Linked DNA regions of Homo sapiens. Changing the gene in region 2 together with the main gene of any one other region gives a genetic interaction. Each region holds a gene or a part of one and is shown on either strand. Other genes may lie near its edges.

Region 1 (4,887 bases), on a different chromosome or scaffold from region 2:
TCAGAGTTTAACATGATGTCTGGAACATAATAAACACTCAAACTCATTGTGCGTGCCTTCCTTAGCATTAGCTAAGCACAAGACTACCTAAAACAGATGTTTTCCAGGCTCCCTTTCAGCTAGGTGGCAATGTCATTAAATTCTGGCTCATAGGATGTAAGTTGAGTGCCATAAAAGGTCAGAAACATGTCTCTTCCTCCTCCAGGCTAGATGGAATGCTGAGGTCAGAGCTGGAGCTCAAGCAGCCACGGCAGAACAAGATACTTGTTGTTTAAGGTTTTCTTCAGCTTAATCTAGCCTTAACCGATATCCAGAGAACCCCCAAAAGGCCTGTCAGGGATTCCAACAAATAGAAGGAGAACAAAAAAAAAGGGAAATTCCCAGAGTGAGATCCTTAACAGGAGTGACAGCAAGCCTAATGTGAAACAGAATGAGGACTCTGGCAGCATCTCAAGGCCCCTGCCTCACTCAGGGATGGCATCTGGTCAGTGTCAGAAAACAACCCCATCCCCCAGCATTCCTCAAACACATGAGGTCAAATGAGGTGAAGAATCAGGACTTCAAGAAGATTCCCTACAGTGTGGACCAAGTATGACTCAGGCCGAGGTGCTCATCAGTAGAGCACGTAAATCCTCCAGAGGGGAGCCATGTTTTCCACAAGAAACAAGACACAAGACTGACTTGACCTAACAAGTCTCAATACACAAAAAAGGATTTAAATCATACAAAATATGTTCTCCAACCACAATGTGACTAAATTAGAAATCAACAAAAAGAAACCTGGGTAATCCCAGATATTTGGAAATTAAACGGCTTACTTCAAAATAGCCCATGGTTCAAAAAATAAAAATAAAACACCCACCTCATGGTACAGGTGGGAGGCTCAGAAGGGAAGACAAATATTTAAGTGAGCTGCATAATGAAACTCTGTAAGGCATTGGGTCTGGAATGTGCCTGCAGCTTGGGAAAGAGTAGAGGCGGCTCTGGAAGGGGCCCCTGCAGAGCTTAAAAACCTCAATGGAGGAATTCTAGAGCCCTGAGGTCCCACAAGTCAACGAGAGGAGGACAAAAAAAAATCAGTAGAAATGTGTGCTCTGGTACAGAGAAAAAAGAAATGACTAATTTCTGAGTGGTTACAGAAAAAAACAGAGCGACAATTAAAAATAATAAACAGTGGGTGGGTGAGTGCAGGGAGTGAGCCATCTTCTCTCAGCTCTTCCAGGCTTGGAGACCTCACTCCTGATCTGTTCCACATTAGCCTGGCCCATCGTCAGGGTGACAGAGACAACTTGCTGTGTGCAGCTCCCTTGCTGGGTGTAGCAGGTGAGATCTCACCTAAATTCTCACCCAAACCTGTGAGGGCTGATTTCCTGTTTATAGGAGAGTAAGGGCTCTGAGGGCTTACAGCACTTGCCAGGCTGTGGAGCTGAAACTTGAACCCAGGCGGTCTGGCTCTAAACAACTGCCAGCCATCCCACCACAATGTGCCGCCTGTGGCAAGGCACCCAAGCCAGGCACTCTCTCATTCCCTGGCCTCGCACAGACTGCTTCCTCTGCCTGGAACACTCTCCCTGCCCATTTCACCTGGCCAACTCTTTCAGCCCATGGCTCAGATGCTGCCACCTCCTGTAAAAGGCCTAGATGCTCTCACCTGTCATGCTGCGCAGCCCAGGCTCACACCCTCTATCTCAACCCCATCGCTCCACACTGCAGGAGCATGTCCATGCTCCACAGAGACAGGACTTCCCTGAGGAACAGCGCCTCAGCAACCCCAGACAAGGGCAGCACCTGGCAGGGTGGGAACTCCAGAGCTTGTGAAAACCACAGGGAATCAATCAGCAGGAGGACCTCAAAAGGCAAACAAGACAGAGACCCTGGAGCTCTGATGGGCAGAGGAGACATGGAGTGAAAGATAGGGAAGGAAGCTGTGTTGAGGCTACCTCTGAGGCTTCTGCACACCTGCAGGCAACACTAGCCCCCAGTCAAGCCCATCCTCAGCCCTGGCTCAGGAACAGGTGTGGGTGGGATGGGCCTGCTCCTTCTAGGCCTCACCTGTGCTGGAGATGCAGCTGCTTCCTCACTGTCTGATTCCTCCTCACTGCTCTCAGAGTCTTCCTGCTTTTCAGCTTTCACCTGGGTGACTGTAGGCCCCGTCTTCCCAGGGAGTACTGGAGCAGTCCCTTGCCCCAAGGACCCCTTGACAGGCACTGAGGCTGCTTTCACCTGGAGGCCTTTCCCCACAGACTTTGCCTGGGATGACAAGGGGAAGAGAGGTGTCTCCAGGAGTCCAAAGGACCACGTAGGGGCGGCCCTGAGGCCCGCCCAGAAAACACAGGCCTCACCTGTCCCACGGTTACTGCAAGACCTGTCTTCTCTTCCTCACTATCTGATTCCTCACTGCTTGAAGAATCCTCTGCTGGTCTCTGGGTGCCCCCAGCCACAGCTGGGGATGAGCCTGCTGGAGAAGTCGCAGTTCCTGCTTTCCGGGGGGCTTGGGTGCCCACTCGCACAGGGGCGACCTTGGCAGATGCAGTGGTATTGGTTTTCTTTGGGCAGGCCTTGGTCTGAGGAATTTTCAGAGCTGGTTTTGCCTGAGGGGACACCAAAGAAAGGCTGGAGAAGGTTCCTGAACTCAGAGTCCCCCATCTGTTCTGCCCCACCAGCCAAAACCCATGCTCTGCCTGAGGGAGCACAGCTCCCCGGGGGTGCTGACTGTGGTGTGGCAGATCAGGCCATGTAGCAGCCTCCTTCCCCAGGCCTCACCTGAGCTGCAGTCATGGCTGCTGGTGCCTCCTCACTGTCCGCACTGTCCGATGACTCCTCGCTGCTCTCCGAGTTGTCCATGGGCTTTTCAGCCTTGACCTGGACGGCTACAGGCCCTGCCTTCTGAGGGGGCCCCTTGGCAGGACTGGAGGTGGGTTTGGCCTGGAGGATGTTCCCCAAGGACTTTTCCTGGAGTGAGATACACAGGATCGGGAGAGGGAGCCCAGGGTAGGTGTGTGCAGACATTAAGAAACTAAGATTGTAGACAGAGTCCCAGTGTGAGGTTGGGAGGCCACAGGCAGCTCCACTCTGAGTGGGGGGGAAAAAGAAAGAGCCTTACAGGAAGGGGCCTCACCTGAGCCGGGGCCACAGCTGTGGGCACCTCTCCATCACTGCTGTCTGATGACTCCTCACTACTGCTCTCTGAGTCCTCCTCCCACTTCCCCACCTGGGCTGAGGGGGTTGCAGGCCCCACCTTCCCGGGTGGCACTGGGCCGGCGCCTTTCCCCAAGGGCCCCATGCCCATGGTAGAGGCAGGTTTCACCTGGGGGCTTTTCCCCAAGGGCTTCACCTGGGAGACACAAAGGACAAGATTAGGGAGGGAGTCCAGAAGGAGAATGTGAGTGAGGGGAGGAGAGCAAACGAAGCCAGCCGCACAGGGCTCTAGGTTCAGAGAGGAAAAGTCAAAACCACAGGAGGTCTTTTGAGGCAGGGCACAGGCCATGCAGGGCGGCTTCCAGCCTCACCTGAGCTGCATTCATGGCTGCCAGTGCCTCTCTGTCACTGTCTGACTCCTCGCTGCTGCTTCTTGAGTCCTCCTCCTGCTTCCCCACCTGGACCTGGGCGGCTGCAGGCCCTGTTTTCCTAGGAGGTGCTGGGGCAGCCCCTTTCCTGGGGGACTCCTTGGCAGGGGCCGAGGCGGCTCTGACCTGGGGGGCCTTCCCTGAAGGCTTCGCCTGGAGTGAGAAACAGGATGAGGGGAGAGCCCAGAGGGTGGACGTGTGGAGACAGGAGCTGGATGTGGCAAAGGTGGCCACACCCATGCAGGTGCTGGGGTTTAGGCATGGGGCTACTCTCCACCCCTCCCCTCTGCCTCACCTGAGCAGGCGCCTCCTCCTCACTGTCCGATTCCTCGCTGCTGCTCTGCGAGTCCTCCTCCCGCTTCCCCGCCTGGGCCTTGGCAACTGCAGGCCCTGTCTTCCCAGGGGGCGCTGGGGCAGCTCCTTTCCTGGGGGACTCCTTGGCAGGGGCTGAGGCAGCTCCGACCTGAGAGGTTTTTCCTGAGGCCTTCGCCTGGAGAAACAAGACAAGGGGAGACAGCCCAGAGGATGGACGTGTGAGGAGACACAGGACACCACGTACAGAAGACCAGATAGGGCAAATGATGCCACACAGTGAGAGGGGAGTAAGGGGCTGGGGTCTGAGGCACGCCCGGGGCTCTGGCCCAGAGTGGGAGAACAAGTCCTGAGAAGGCCTTCTGGGGACGGGCCTGGCTGCATGGAGTCTCCCTCCTCAGGCCTCACCTGAAGCAGGGCCTTGGCAGCTGGCGTCTCCTCCTCACTGTCAGATGACTCCTCGCTGCTGCTCTCTGAGTCCTCCTCTGGCTTCCCTGCCTTGGTCTGGGAGGCTACAGCCCCTGCCTTCCCAGGGGGTGCTGGGGTAGCCCCTTTCCCAGGGGTCCCCTTGGCAGGGGCTGAGGCAGCTCTGACCTGGAGAATTTTTTCAGAGGCCTTTACCTGGTGAAAAAGAAAGGGCAGCTTGCTCTCCTGCTTGTGAAAACTCTCTGGTGATGCCTTTAGGATAAAGTCCAGAGGCCTTAATGAGGCTCCTAAGACCTCCCCTGCTTCCCTCCCCACTCCCCACCTTGACTGATACTTTGGCCACACTGGCCTCCTGGTTTCTCAAAAATCGATCAGCTTCACACACTCTCACTCCTGGAGCCTCCATGCCCCCTGTTCCATTTCACTTAGCCACTGCCTCCTCTGTCTCTGGCTCCCTAAGAGACACCACTTCCTTAACATGGTTCCCCCTGGTGCCCCAGCACACTGGGTAGTTAGAGCCTGTCCTCTGCTGGGCTCCCACTGGCCAGAGAGCTCTGGAGGCACAGGCACTGGCTTATCGGGA
Region 2 (4,900 bases):
GTCAGTCACGTGATAATAACTATAGCTTGGGAGGGTGGCACATGAACTATTTGGGAAGGTCAAAGTCAGTTCAGCTCAAGACTATGAGAACCAGAAGCCCCTTTGTCCCAAGGGGGCTGGCAGCTGCAGTTTTACTGAGTCATGTTTTTAAGTTTCTCTATATTGGCCACTTTGTTATGACATATCCTGACATACCTGCTGTCCAGTTTCTTGCACTGAGCATTGGCCATGCAAGCAGATTTCTCTACTAGCTCTAAGTTCAACACTTCTACTTTTCCTTCATCACAGTCACTTTCACCGTATCTTTAGTCGATGGACAGATGACAAAGATATGACAAATATATAAACAATATATATAATGAAGTATTAGGAGTACACCCAACAGGAGAGACCAGAAGAGGCAGGACTAGATGAGGGCGAGACCTGCTCCTCTCAGCCCCTGCTCATTTCCAGGCCAACAATGAACAGATGGTGGAAAGAATTACACAGCACTCCACACAGACATAGATACTTATTTATTTGCATATTTAAAGTTTACACACATGCTATGACTCCAATGTTTTAAAAAAATAAGCCCTTAACAGCTCTGAGACACATGGCCTCTTCTGTATCCCAAGCAAATCCCTAAATGGAGGTAGAGCACGTGTTCCTATTTTTCACACTCTCATATGGGAGATAAGTGGTTAAGGAGGACTAGAAACCCAATCAGGCCTACCGGGGTGCCGGACAGACACACAGCATTCCTAAAGGAATGCCACCAGAGAAAAAATACAAGTCTGTACATATATCTTTATTTTCATACTTAAAAAGAATCACATACTCATTCCAACAGCTTTACCAGGCTTCGCCAACCCAATAAGTTACACACTCACTCAGGTACTAGGAAGGTTATTGCACAGCTCCTTAACTGATCGGGGTCAGGGCAGAGTGGTCACTTTCCCCACAGCCAGGCTCTGGATTTGCCTCCTGTGAAGACACCATGCCTAGCACAGGCTGACGGGGCGGCTGCAGTCGAACCTTGCCTCCAGATTATGAACCAGTATAAGTAGCACAATTCTCGTGGCTACTTTCACTTCAGAGTGTCATGTTTATTGATGTGGAGCTTTCTGAATAGGGAGGTTAAGGCACACCTGCTGAGTAAAACAAATATTTCTTGTGTAGCGTTCTAGATTGAGGGCAGCAGTCAATGGTAAAATAAACTTCAGTAGCATGTTCCTGTCAGGTTATATGGCAGCCCTGGCTCAAGGATTTCTCCCCCTGCACGATTCCTAAGACTGTTTGCTAGCTGATTCTTTGTTTTGGCAATTTGATGGTTTTGATGAATTTGCTGTGATCCAGGGGTGTTCAAGTACTTCTCTGAGCATTGGCCTCTGGCTGGGATTATGCTTCAACAGTCTTGAAATGAGGTCCCTGGCTCCCTCTGTTACAAAGTCAGGGAATGTGAATTCAACCTGGAGTACAACAAATGATAAAATATCACAAAACACAGGTTAGAGAGATCAAATAGTATAGATGTTCGGATCTTGGCCTGCAGTTCAGGCTGATAAGGAAAGAATTCCAGCAGATGTGCTGGGTCCTTTTCAGTTGCGTCTTACCCGTGATATTCTTTTGTAGGTCTCTTGGTATGTGTTTGCCTCAAAAGGAGGCTTCCCAACTAAAAATTCATAGCAAAGAACTCCAAGGCTCCAGAGATCCACCTTCTCATCATGCATCCGACCTTCAATCATTTCAGGGGGCAGGTAGTCCAGGGTGCCACAGAGAGTGGTCCTCCTGAAAACGGAGGGAGGCTCAGGTTGATGTGCTTCTCGTTTTATGATCACAACAGCTGCTAACAATCATTAAAGAGTCCACTAACACTGAGGTCTTCCCCTGGGCCAGATCCTGTGCCCTAGGAAGTAGCTACTATTATAAATTCCCATAGGAAACAGATGAAGCGAGGTGTGTAAGGTCACACAGCTAGCCATCAGGCTTAACCCCAAATCTGTCCAACTCCAGAACCTCCCTGAATAATCTAGAATGTAAGAAACTGAATGTATCACTACCATATAAAAGCTGCCATGCAAAGTTCTCTGTAAATACGATTTGGATTCTACATCTGCATGTGGATATTACAGATATGCTAAGAATCTTAAAAGCCTGGTCGCAATGACAATACACTAGAAACTGTCCCACTGTAACAGCACTGGGGTGGAGATGTAGACACATGCTGCCTTGTGATAGATACTTGGTACGAGTGATGCTGAAATTTTGAGGGTGGCCTATGAAGTACTCTTGCCAAAAATATTTAACCTGGCTGGGTGCAGTGGCTCATGCCTGTAATGCCAGCACTTTGGGAGGCCGAGGGAGGCGGATCACGAGGTCAGGAGATCGAGACCATCCTGGCTAACATGGTGAAACGCCGTATCTACTAAAAATACAAAAAATTAGCCGGGTGTGGTGGTGTGCGCCTGTAGTCCTAGCTACTCAGGAGGCTGAGGCAGAAGAATGGCGTGAACCCGGGAGGCGAGCTTGTAGTGAGCCAAGATCGCACCACTGCACTCCAGCCTGGGTGACAGAGCGAGACTCTGTCTCAAAAAAAAAAAAAAATTTTCTTAACCTGAATCTCTTCAGGACCTGAGACCTACATTCCAGTTTTCAGCAAATACGGGGAATAAAGGTCCAAGTTAAGTGGCAACACAATCAGAAAAGTCCTCTTTAAAGTGGGAGACTGGTCTGGCTTTAGACCACAGAGACAATCCAACCACAGAGACAGTCCAACCACAGAGACAGTCCAACCACAGAGACAATCCAACCACATAGACAGTCCAATACAAAGCATGGGCTTTGGTTGAGTTCTGATTTTACAAACCAGCTATAAGATGTCATGGACAATAGGAGAAATCTGAATGTGGACTAAATATTAGATACTGACAATGCTGTTAATTTTCTTAGGAGTGATCATGGTTCTAGTTATATAGGAGAATATCCTTATTTAGGAAATGCATTCTATTATAGTGCTTAAGGTTGAAGCATCATGATGTTTGCAACGTATTTTCAAGTGTTCACTAAAAAAGCAGATGCAGCCCTTCTGACTAAATGGGAAAAACTGCTGAACGTAGGCACTGTATAGACAGGTATGCCATCAACTACCAATTCCGCATTTTTATCGGTTTAGGTTTTTTTAACGAAGGTTGGAAAAAAGCTGGGAACAGCAGACAGCAAGCCAGAACAGTCTGTGTGGGTTCGTGTTGCTTTGTTATCAGCTGCTCTTCACCATGGAGGCTTACGTGGTCACAGCCCTGGTGCTGTGTTCAGCCAGGCCTGGCACCCACTGAGCACACAAACAGTCACTCACCACTGAATTGTGACGTAGGATTAAGAAGCTACCACTCTGGTCATCTAACCCCTCCATCAGCACCGACGGACTGAATCGGGGGTTCTCAAACTGAGGCAATAACCAGGAAATGATGATGATTAACATCTGGGATTTGGAGTGAAGTGACTATCGGTTATGTAAGTAATCTTTTCAAAAAGCAAGAAGCCATCTTTTCTATCACAATTCAACCGGTTAAGATACAGTTTAACTCTGCGATTCCATGAAGCCTGTAAGTCTTTATTCTGGTTTGTCTCACCAGATAACAGCTCCCACTAATGACAACCAGTTTAAAAAAAAAAAAAAAAAAAAAGACTGCAATAGCAGATTCAGTGCATTGCTGGAACAATTAGAAGTGCTCTGTAACAAAAGCAAAGGTTTTCTCCCTCATATTCTATTTTAGGCTATACTTTTTTTTTAACTAGCTTGATTTTTAAGTCATTTGGCTATAATTTGAGTCCTCCTCCAAAGTTGACAAAACTTCATCGGTAGATATATGTTTTAAAATGCCCCACTTCATGTGAAGTTTCAAAGCTTATTTAAACTCAAATTTAAAACAGTAAAGATATTGTAGTTCACTTGGAAAGCTAAGATTTGAATTGTTTTGAGACTGACATCTCTGCTTCAGCTGTGACAGGGGATAAGAAAGGACTATCCCTACTATTGACAGAGGCAGACTGAAGAGAATCTCTCACCACTGCCCTCAAAGCACCACCAAACTAATTTAGTGTTTCAAGTTCCCTGATATGGCCTGCACTCTGAGCTCTAGATCTTTGTCAGTGCTGTCCTCTGAACCATCTCCCCATCTCCTCATCCAGGAAGCAGCAGAGGTGAAGAGTTCCTCCCACTCAACATGTGGGCACTTCACCTCTGTCATATACGTGTCCTATCTGTTGACTCATTCATCCCTTCATTAGCCTCTAAGGACATTAAGCATCTTCAACCCTAGGCCTAGAACACTGCTAATAGCCCCAAATCTCCACAGAATAACACTTTCTTGCAAACCCTAGTTTATTATTAAGCCTAAATTACTCCAAAGTACTTCTGGGTTAGCCACCTACCCCTCTTACAGCACAAAATCTACACTGAAATATTTTACATTTAGCTCACGGTTAGCTCCCAGGGCTTTGGTAAACCAAACAACTTCCACCTCTAAAGTTACATACCTGGAAGATGGAGCATGTACTGACCACCCAAAATCTGCAATTTTAAGCTCTCCAGCTGATCCAAGAAGTAAGTTCTCTGGCTTAATGTCTCTATGAATAACTCTCTTCGAATGACAGTAAGACAGGGCATTTGCCAATTCTGTTATATACTGTTAAAACAATATTGAAAGCCTATGTTTTAGATTTTATATAACACAAGTTAATATTAGACATCTCTTCCGAAAGGAACACAACATAGATTTAACATGGTTTGCAGGTTTTGGCCAGGCACAGTGGCTCACACCTATAATCCCAACACTTTGGGGGACTGAGGTGGGAGGATCACTTGAGCCCAGGGGTTCAAGACCAGCCTGGGAAACATAGCAAGACTCCATCTCTACAA
Region 3 (4,887 bases), on a different chromosome or scaffold from region 2:
CTTGGTGTTTCATAACACTTCCAGTGAAATGAATACAAATTGATACCAGCACTGCAGGTTGTGTGTGCCTGACTTGCATCTCATGAGTCGCTCCATGATAAGTGAAAGGCTTTCTGGTATGTACCATGTCACAGGTTTCACAATCACTTCCATGACTATTTTAATGAGTGTTAAGTGGCAATAGGAGAGAGACTAAAACTTTCTTCCTTTGTCAGCATATCAGGTGATTCCTACAGCTTTGTAAGATGCAAGGGCAATACAACAACAGCATAAGGTATCACATAGTTCCAAAAGGAGACACATTTGCAAATGGACTTAACACTGTGGTATCTCTAGTTCAATACAACCTGGTATTCTTACCATCAACACTTGCCATATGGAAAAAGGGGGATAGGCATTTTGCTCTATAGCACTTACTATTGAAGTTTATTCAAAATACAAAGTAATGCAGCCATTTTACTGAAACTTCCAAGTAGAAAAGTTAAACATTGAAGAGCTTTATATTTTAATCATAACTTACCTCTTCAGTAATCGAATCTAACGATGAAGTAGCTTCATCATAGAGTATGACTGGGGGGTCCTTCAAAATGGCTCTTGCAATTGCTACTCTTTGCTTTTCTCCTCCTGGTAAAGGAAAATTTTACTTTAAGGAAGCATAGTGCATGCATATTTTATGTTTTTAGTGTTTCCATTGATTACAACCACCAAGTAATACACTGAACATTTCCTTATTCTCCTGATCACAGTTCATTTTACTGAGTTGTAGAGTTGAAGTTCATATACAATATCTTTTGACAAATTATATTCCCTGAAACATGAATGCACTACTGAATTCTGACTTCATAGCAGGTGGGAAGAATGAGAATGAGGCAGTAAGGTAACAACTTTGATTCTACTATTATTCTTCTACCAGAAGCATGCTCATTATATGTTACTTTATATTACAGATAATTCTCAATGAACTGCAATCTCAGAAAAATTTCAATGACAGAATTGACAATGCCAAAAAAATCAATATCTGAAACCTGAAACTTGAAGACATTAAACTATGAATAACTGAATTCGTCTCTTAAGATAAAAAAGTAGCATTCAGCCAGTATTCTCAAGGATTGTTTTTTGATAGAAAGCTATTATTTTCACAGCATTCTTCAAAGTTAAAGGCATACACTAGATATCTTTTCCTTTATTCAGGTATTTATTATAGGTCTCTAGCATATCAAATTTTTAAAATAGAAAGGATATAGGCCCAGAAAAGTTAAGTGATTTGCTCAAGGTCACCGAGCAAGAATCTGGACTAGACCCATTTCAGTCCAATGCTCTTCTTATCACAATGTGTAAGCCCACATTTATTCCTAAATACAAGAATAAATATTTAGAAAGTATTTCTTAAATAAACAGTGAAAATATGTAGTGAAATGTATAGAAACCTTTATTACTGAGACTACTGTAGGTCTAAGGTCATCAATCTTATATAGAACTATAGTTGGAAGTACAGAAGATGGTACTCTGCTGACTATGTCCCTTTTGGCTTCTTTTCTTGTCTATTATACATTACCAATATCTGAAAAACATATTTTTCAGCTTATTAGGAAATAAGCTCTATCCATTACCTGGTACATTAAATATTTTTATTTTTACTTATTCTACAATTATTATCTTTGGCCTATAAAGGGGTTCCTTATTTTTAATATTAGTAAGTTTATATTTATGCTAGCCATACGCTTCCCCACCTCACAGGATCAAAATTCTCCTAACAAGGCAGGTACCATAAGTACTATCTTCCCGCCTACCTATCAGCCCAGTAGCAGAAAGTTCCTCAAAGAAGTAGATATTCAGAGGAAGGACTAGTTTTGAAGTGCCTCTCAAATTTCAAGTGGAAACCAACTCAGTTGTAATTCTATTCAACGGTATTTTGGAACTTGGAGAAGAAATGTCTGTTTATTCTCTAACATAATTATTAGCATAGATGATAAATAATAAATTGCTCATTTTGAGAGGTTTGGTTATAAGGAAATGAGAAATAGGTAAGAATAAAATTTCTTTAGCTATTCCTATCCCTCAAAGGCATGCAGAAAGGAAAAATAAGATTAGAAAATGGAACACAGCATAGCTGGCTGAGGCAAAGTCATGCATTAAGAGGGCTAGTTCATATTACGTGATAAATTAGGGATCGCCAGAATTAGCCAAACGGACACATAATTTGGGGGTGGGCCAGATAACTGGAAATTACTCCTATTAAAAGCAGTAATAAAGTGTAAATGTGGACTGGAATGATACTGGCATCTTATACTACCAGGTAATGACCCAATCAACTTAACTTGGAAATAATCTTTGCTTAAAATTTTCTAAACCTAGCCCAAAACTTTCTAACAGATTGCCAATTCCTGAATAACAGGCCTGTTTATGCTTCATTTTTTTAACTTTCAAATCATTTAGCATAGTAGCTTGCACATAGTGTGTATCTAATAAATGAAGCCAGTTTATAATGAAGAGGAATGTGGATTCGTTAAAATTCATATAGAGTATTTCTCATTCTATTTTTGCCTTACCTCTATCTATAATCGATACATTTCCTGCCCAAACTAAACTAGACATTGCTATACTTTTGAATTCAAATAATTTGGGGGTAAAGAAACATTTTTCTGTGTCCTCCAAAAAAAAAATCAGTCATTTTAGGGTAATTCATTCTTAAACCTAGCAATCTCATAATTAAACATTTAACAAGAAATGTATAAGCCTCAAAATATCCTTGGCCACAGAACAAAGGACATGAAAATGAATCTGGCTGTAAGGAAAGTATAGCAGTTAACAGGATCAAATATAAAGAGGTCTCAAGTACTGAAAACATCTTCTAATGATCTAGGAAGTTATGATGAGAGATATACACTATTCGTTATCAAATTACTTCTCCCTAACCTTACTACTTTCCCAGGTAAAGAACGATCTTGTTTTTCCTTTATCATGAAGATTGTAGATAACAAGTTAGTAATGATCTGAGCATATTTTGATAACTTACTTAATATCAAACACCTACAGTGTTTGCAGCTGCAAGTGAAAAAAAAAAGACTTGCATGACTTGAGAATAGTTACTAATATGTTGAATTGGTTATAGTGAGGGCTAGGAGATTAGTAACCCAATCAAATGTGACTCAACGAGCACTACATTTGAAGTCTCTCATTACATTTTCTAAAAAATGGCTCTGACAAATTAGAGTTTGAAAGAAGTATACAAGAAGGGGGCAGGTCTAAAATCTCTGATCACCTGAAAGCTTGAGTCCTCGTTCCCCTACTTGGGTGTCATATCCATGTGGCATTCGAAGAATTGCATCATGAAGTCCAGCTAATTTTGCCACTGCATACACTTCCTCAGGTGAAGCACTGATGTTTCCATATAAGAGGTTGTAATAAATAGTATTATGGAAGAGGACAGCATCCTGAAGCAGATATACTGAATGAATATATATCTATATCTATATATCTCTCTCTATTTATGTTCATTATTAAAAATTCAAATAGTAAAGAGACAAAGGCATAAAGGGTAAAACATGACAGTCCCTTTCATCATCCCTCATCTGCAAAATCCCATTCCCTTCCCAGGGGTAGTCATCATAAACAATTTAGTGTGCATCATTCCAGACTTCTTCCTGTGAATTTATATACCTAAACATATGTTTCTTTCCCCTAACACAAGTATGGTCATTCTACACATATTATTTTGCAATTGCTTTTTTCAGTTAACATATCATAGAGATTGTCCATGTCAATAACAGAAAACTAACTCATTCTTTTTAACAGTTGTATATTCCATACTATGGAAATGTCATAATTTATTTATACATTCTCCTACTGATGGACATTAATGTGATTTCCAAGTTTATGCTACTACAATGTTGGAATAAAACATTATGTATATGACTTTGTACAACTGTGTGTTTCTGTAAGAATTCCTAGAAGTAGACTGATGAGTTTAAAGGTAAGCATACTTTTATCCTTTGATATTATTGCCCAAATGTCTTCTAAATATGGCCCTACCAGCAACCAATAATGTATAAGTACACGCTAACCAATAGCATATGAGGGTGCCAGTTCCTCATATACTCAGAAACCCTGGATATTAATAATTTTTAGGTGTTGCTATTCTTAGGGGAAAAATGTGTTTTTTGTTTAAATTAGCATTTCCCTAATTACTAACGAGGTTTGAATATGTTTTCCTATGTTTCTAAGAAGCTTTGACATTGATATTAAAACAGAAAACAAATAATTTATGCAATATATATATTTTTGGAGAAAGTTCACTTCAAGCATTCATTTGATATTTCAACTTATTCTCACATGGCACACTAAAGCTAATTTACTTCAAGTGAGCATCCATCTCCCATTTTTCTTTCAATCTCTAAACGGTTGGAAGGCTATGGTTAGGTGAAATAAAATGACTCCATTTGTTCACATTAACCAGGATACCCATCTTCTTTAACATCATAATCAGACCAAAAATTTCATATATTGCTTTAAATAGTATTTAAATCATTTATATACCTATTAATAAAATTTCTCATATTGAGACAATACTTAAACTCAATAAGCTCATTGTATAAACAGAAACTGCTTATTTTAAAATAATTTATATTTAGGAAAAAGCTAAATGTGCTAGATGGAAATTTTGAAAATATAAAAACTAATATAAAATAAATACTGATTTTTTTGGTGTAATTTCTGCTAAATGGGTAGATTTTAGCTGCTCTAGTCACAAAAACATGGGTAACTGTGAGATGATGGACATGTTAATTTGCTTCTCTACAGTAATATAATTATCTATATGTATCTCATAACATCATGTTAGATACCTTAAATATATACAATAATGTTTAATAAATTAAACTTTAAATA
Region 4 (4,361 bases), on a different chromosome or scaffold from region 2:
TGACTCCCTGGTTCTGGCATTGGCAGTGCCCGAGTGGGAAGCATCTGATAATCATCAGGGGACAGGACTTGTTTGTCTTGCTGCCTTTATCTGCTCGTGGGCAGGGAGGTCTCTTTCTTTGGATAGGTATTTGTTCTACCCTAGGTTCTTTGTTGTTCTCCCTGGATCAGGGTGCCAGGCCCAGTAGGGACACAGCCTCTCTTGGCAGTCTCTTACATATGTCCCTGGATCCAACCACTGAAGACTGGTCCCTGCAGTAGTTTTTGTACAGTCCTTTATAGAACTACATATAATAGCTTAATGTTTGCATGAGGTTTACATGGCTCTTGGTGATTAAATCAAATGCCCTACTCAGTGATGTGGCGATGCTATCCCAGTCTTCGTAGGTTGTCTCTGGTCTCCTGCCAAGCGGAACGTGCCAGGTGAACACTTGGGCACAGTGAGCCCCGATGCTTTCAGGAGCCTGAGTATTCAAACTAAACACAGCAAATCCTTCAAAGCCCTTCCAGCTTCATCTTTAGAATACTGAATGCGGGAAATTCCACAGTGACTCCTAGGAAACAATTCTTATTTCTAACTGGGCTCCCATTAAAACAAGATGATTTTCCTGATTCTAACCTGACGTCTTTGTGACTGATTCTTTAGTGCTCTTCTTATTCTTTCCCTAGTGAGTCAGTAACATAATTATTCAACAAAGGAATGTGTGTGTGTGCACGCACACACGTTTGCCTGTGTGTGTGTTCTTGGGTTCATAAACTTCAGTTTGAGCTACTCTAAGTCTTTGCTTCCTTGTTCATTCATTCAACAAATACTGAGTAAATCTCTCTGGGTGCCCGTGGCTGGACATCACACACACATGCTGGATGTACATGTGCATATGCCTGCGTTGCCTCTTTTTAATGTGTTTGCACTTGAGATGCATATTCAGAGAATGCATCCTCAAGAAAACTTGTGGATTGATACTGGATGTTCCGTGTTTCTGTGCTCCTCTACTCCTTTTCTGATAATTCTTATGTGAAGTTATCAAACAGGAAAGTACGTTGTCACATTCCTTCACTCTGGCTCCAGTTCTGACCCAGTGGGTGATATATGCCATCCGAAACCTTACCGAAGACAACAGCCAAAACCAAGATTTGATTGCAAAGATGGAGGAACAGGGGCTGGCAGATGCATCCCTACTTAAAAAAGTGGGTTTTGAAGTTGAAAAGAAAGGCGAAAAGCTGATCCTGAAATCTACTAGAGACACCCCTAAGCCAGTAAGTACCCTCGAGGGAACTGTCCTTCCCTTTGGTTTGTAGAAAGCTGTTTCCACTTCCCCATTGCTTCAAGCACGAGGCTCTTTGTAAGAATATGGATGGGAGAATTGTGCCCTCTATAGTGGTTTACCGAGGAAAGCCCTAAAGATAGCTGCAAACGGTTTTTTTGTTCCGGCTTTATGCTGCCATTTTCTTAAAAGAGGGACAATTTCAAACTCATTCTGGGTGAGAAATACAAAAGGCATATCAAAAGTTATACATGGTCTAAAAGTAAGTTACTCATAGGAATTAGATTTTCTTTAAAAGATAGTTAATGTTCACTATAGTTTAAAAAACAGAACTCCTTGAATAATATTGCATGAATTGTTTTAGGTTTCTCTAAGTTATTTGTCACCACTGACCAAAGTTCTGGGTTTTTTCCCCTTTTGTCTGATGAATCTTGTGAACAGATTTGCTACATCTGCAATTTTGTTTCTTTCTTCTTCTTTAGTGAATGAACTACATCCAAATACCTGAATTTTTGGAATCTGTTTCATGGATTTTTCATCTTCTACCGTATGTGAAATTGCAAGTGTTTGAAGATTTATAAGTACAAATTTGGGAACATACAAATCTTTTAGGTAGTAGAGTTTAACGTGTATAAGCTAAAAGTGAAAGTAACTGAGTGTTCTCTTGTTTCTTTGCATTAATGTAACTGTGTGGTTTGCCTTTGTCCCCCTGGATAGAACGTGCATTTAAAGAATATATTGTACTTACTGTGACAGCAGATAATAAACCAGTCTCTTGGAGGGCACAACCCTTATTTGACAAAACTTGGATGTTGGCTTGACTGTGTTTGTCCCTTCAGATGGCAAGTCAGCATCATTCTTTATATTCCTCTTCTCATTGGGTTTTCTGAACTCTGGCAGGCGGTTGAAGTAGTTTCTCACTGTGATTAATTCTAGCAATCTCTTTTCACCCCTCTGCCTTTCCAAAACATTGACAAGACTCATTTCCAGTTAATTAATTCGAGAACCCTCCCTCTTCATTTTGGGTACTGGGCTGTCTTGTCACTGAGCCCTATCCCTTTGGAATGTGGCAGGGAGTGAGGTTGGTGAGAGAACATGTGGGCACTTAACTCTTCATGTTCCAGTTCATCCCAGAAGTAGACATCCCAGGACCCATTCTGTGTCAAGGTGAATGCCTGTGTCCTCCCCAGCTTCATGCCTCTGTCATGGGGGAAGGAATAGCTTATGTTCTGCTCTGGTGCAGTGCCGTAGATTAAAGGTACATTTCTATCTTCTTTGATTTAAAAAGCACCAGTCTCATAAAGGTGCCACTCAGTTTTAGCCATGTCTTCACTGAAATTGCAAAAGTACTTTTAGGGAGCAGGAGTTTATTTGACATCTAGTTATCTGTCTGTCTGTTCATCTATCTATCTGTCTGCTGTATGAGAGGTAGGACTGGATTAAATGACCACTGAACTCACTGAATCCAGATCATTCATATCATCAACAAAAGCTCTAGGGGGAGGTCACGTTGTGAATGCTTAAAACATATTATTTTCTTCAACAACCATATCGCTAAACTAATATATCCAGAGATTTTGCACAATTCGTGTTGAACCTTCCAAAACAAAAATAAAGACCTGTCCAAAAGTTTTGACAAAAATACTGATTGCTCCCAAATAAAGTGCTTCTAAGCTTTGTGTAGACATAGTTTAACTGATTTGTAAAAATAGCTTAAGCATGTTGAGAATGAAGTAAAAGTTTTCCCATGTGCTGTCTAATGTACTCTGTGTAACTCTGAAGACACATCAGCTTCTAGGATTGCAGCAATCTATGAATAACATTTTTTCTCTCATTTATGACTTTCCATCAGTAAAGAAGCCATTGCAGAATTTAAAATTACACAAAGGAGTCATTCTCTCCTGGGACATAAAGAGTTAAAGCTCTGTCCTCTAAATAGAAGCCTGGCCAAAGGGAGAAAACAGTGGGAGTCCCTTTTCCCTTTTAACAAGTTTGCAATAGACACTTCTTTTTTTCCTGTCTCAATGGATGTGTGCACACCAGTGGAATCGCACAAACTTGTCGGTATGAGCTATATAATAACAAACACAAATAAATAAAAGGGAGCCTTGTGAGAATACAGAATGGGGTAATGGTTATGTGTTTTCTAAGTAGGAAGTGTGGGGCTTGCATAGTGAAAACATGCTGATGACTGCATTGTGGCTGCCTTTGATTCCCTCGGATGGATTAATTCTTGAGCACAACAGCTTCCCTGTCCTCTACCGTGGAGGACTCGGAGCTCCTGAGAACCTTGTTTTACATGCTATAGAGGATTAATCATCACCTCAATCAGTCATTTAGAAGGAAGAAAAAAGCAGGCCAGCCTTACAAAATTTGTAAAGAGACAGAATGGTCACAGCAAGTTTTGTGACCATATTATTGCTTTCAAGAGCGAGCTGACAAAGCTTTTAGCTGGCTTCACTTTAAAAGATAGAGGGGAAGGCTTCTCAGCTTGATACTGAGTCCAAGTATTTGCAGAGTGATTATTTTTTAATACCTTAACAATGGATGTGAAGATTTCAAAAATACTTATTTTTGCAATCTTAAAACAGTCGGCTCTCTGTATCCACAGATTGAACCAACTGGGGATTGAAAATACTCAGGAAAAATAAAATAGTAGTACAACAACAAAAAATAATACAAATTTTAAAATACAAGGTAACAACTATTTCCATAGCATTTACATTTTATTAGGTGTTACAAGTAATCTGGAGATGATTTAAAGTATGTGGGAGAATGCGGGTAGTTTATATGCAAATACTGTGAAGGCTCATATCAGAGACTTGAGCATCCATAGATTTTGGCATCCAAGCGGGGGTTCCTGAAACCAATACTCCACAGATTTCAAGGGCCAACTTACTAAACTGTTAGGATTTGTTAATATTTGTTCATTGTCCTCCTGCCCCAGCCGTGTAAGACATGCCTGCTTCCTCTTCTGCCATGATCCTAAGTTTCCTGAGGCCTCCCGAGCCATCCTTCCTGTATAGCCTGCAGAGCCATGAGCCAATTAAACCTCTTTTCTTTATAAATTATCTAGTCTCAAGGAGTTCTGTGTAGC

Evidence for each region. Genes that interact genetically often act in the same process or in processes that back each other up.
Region 1: changes in AURKA (region 2) and TCOF1 together harm fitness more than expected from each alone (negative genetic interaction), as found in Homo sapiens cells (one large-scale study listed by BioGRID).
Region 3: changes in AURKA (region 2) and ABCB7 together harm fitness less than expected from each alone (positive genetic interaction), as found in Homo sapiens cells (one large-scale study listed by BioGRID).
Region 4: changes in AURKA (region 2) and ATXN10 together harm fitness more than expected from each alone (negative genetic interaction), as found in Homo sapiens cells (one large-scale study listed by BioGRID).

What each region holds. Positions count from the first base shown.
Region 1 is NC_000005.10:150,373,786-150,378,672, reverse strand, and holds part of TCOF1 (treacle protein), read right to left. Parts: intron 4,500-4,887; coding exon 4,287-4,499; intron 4,057-4,286; coding exon 3,862-4,056; intron 3,720-3,861; coding exon 3,510-3,719; intron 3,335-3,509; coding exon 3,119-3,334; intron 2,953-3,118; coding exon 2,764-2,952; intron 2,592-2,763; coding exon 2,343-2,591; intron 2,251-2,342; coding exon 2,053-2,250; intron 1-2,052.
Region 2 is NC_000020.11:56,368,890-56,373,789, forward strand, and holds the end of AURKA (aurora kinase A), read right to left. Parts: intron 4,668-4,900; coding exon 4,519-4,667; intron 1,771-4,518; coding exon 1,596-1,770; intron 1,452-1,595; coding exon 1,269-1,451; 3' UTR 501-1,268; downstream 1-500. UniProt on the Homo sapiens protein: Mitotic serine/threonine kinase that contributes to the regulation of cell cycle progression.
Region 3 is NC_000023.11:75,061,808-75,066,694, forward strand, and holds part of ABCB7 (iron-sulfur clusters transporter ABCB7, mitochondrial), read right to left. Parts: intron 3,435-4,887; coding exon 3,263-3,434; intron 625-3,262; coding exon 521-624; intron 1-520. UniProt on the Homo sapiens protein: Exports glutathione-coordinated iron-sulfur clusters such as [2Fe-2S]-(GS)4 cluster from the mitochondria to the cytosol in an ATP-dependent manner allowing the assembly of the cytosolic iron-sulfur (Fe/S) cluster-containing proteins and participates in iron homeostasis.
Region 4 is NC_000022.11:45,841,923-45,846,283, forward strand, and holds the end of ATXN10 (ataxin-10), read left to right. Parts: intron 1-1,068; coding exon 1,069-1,256; intron 1,257-1,746; coding exon 1,747-1,749; 3' UTR 1,750-3,385; downstream 3,386-4,361. UniProt on the Homo sapiens protein: May play a role in the regulation of cytokinesis. May play a role in signaling by stimulating protein glycosylation. Induces neuritogenesis by activating the Ras-MAP kinase pathway and is necessary for the survival of cerebellar neurons.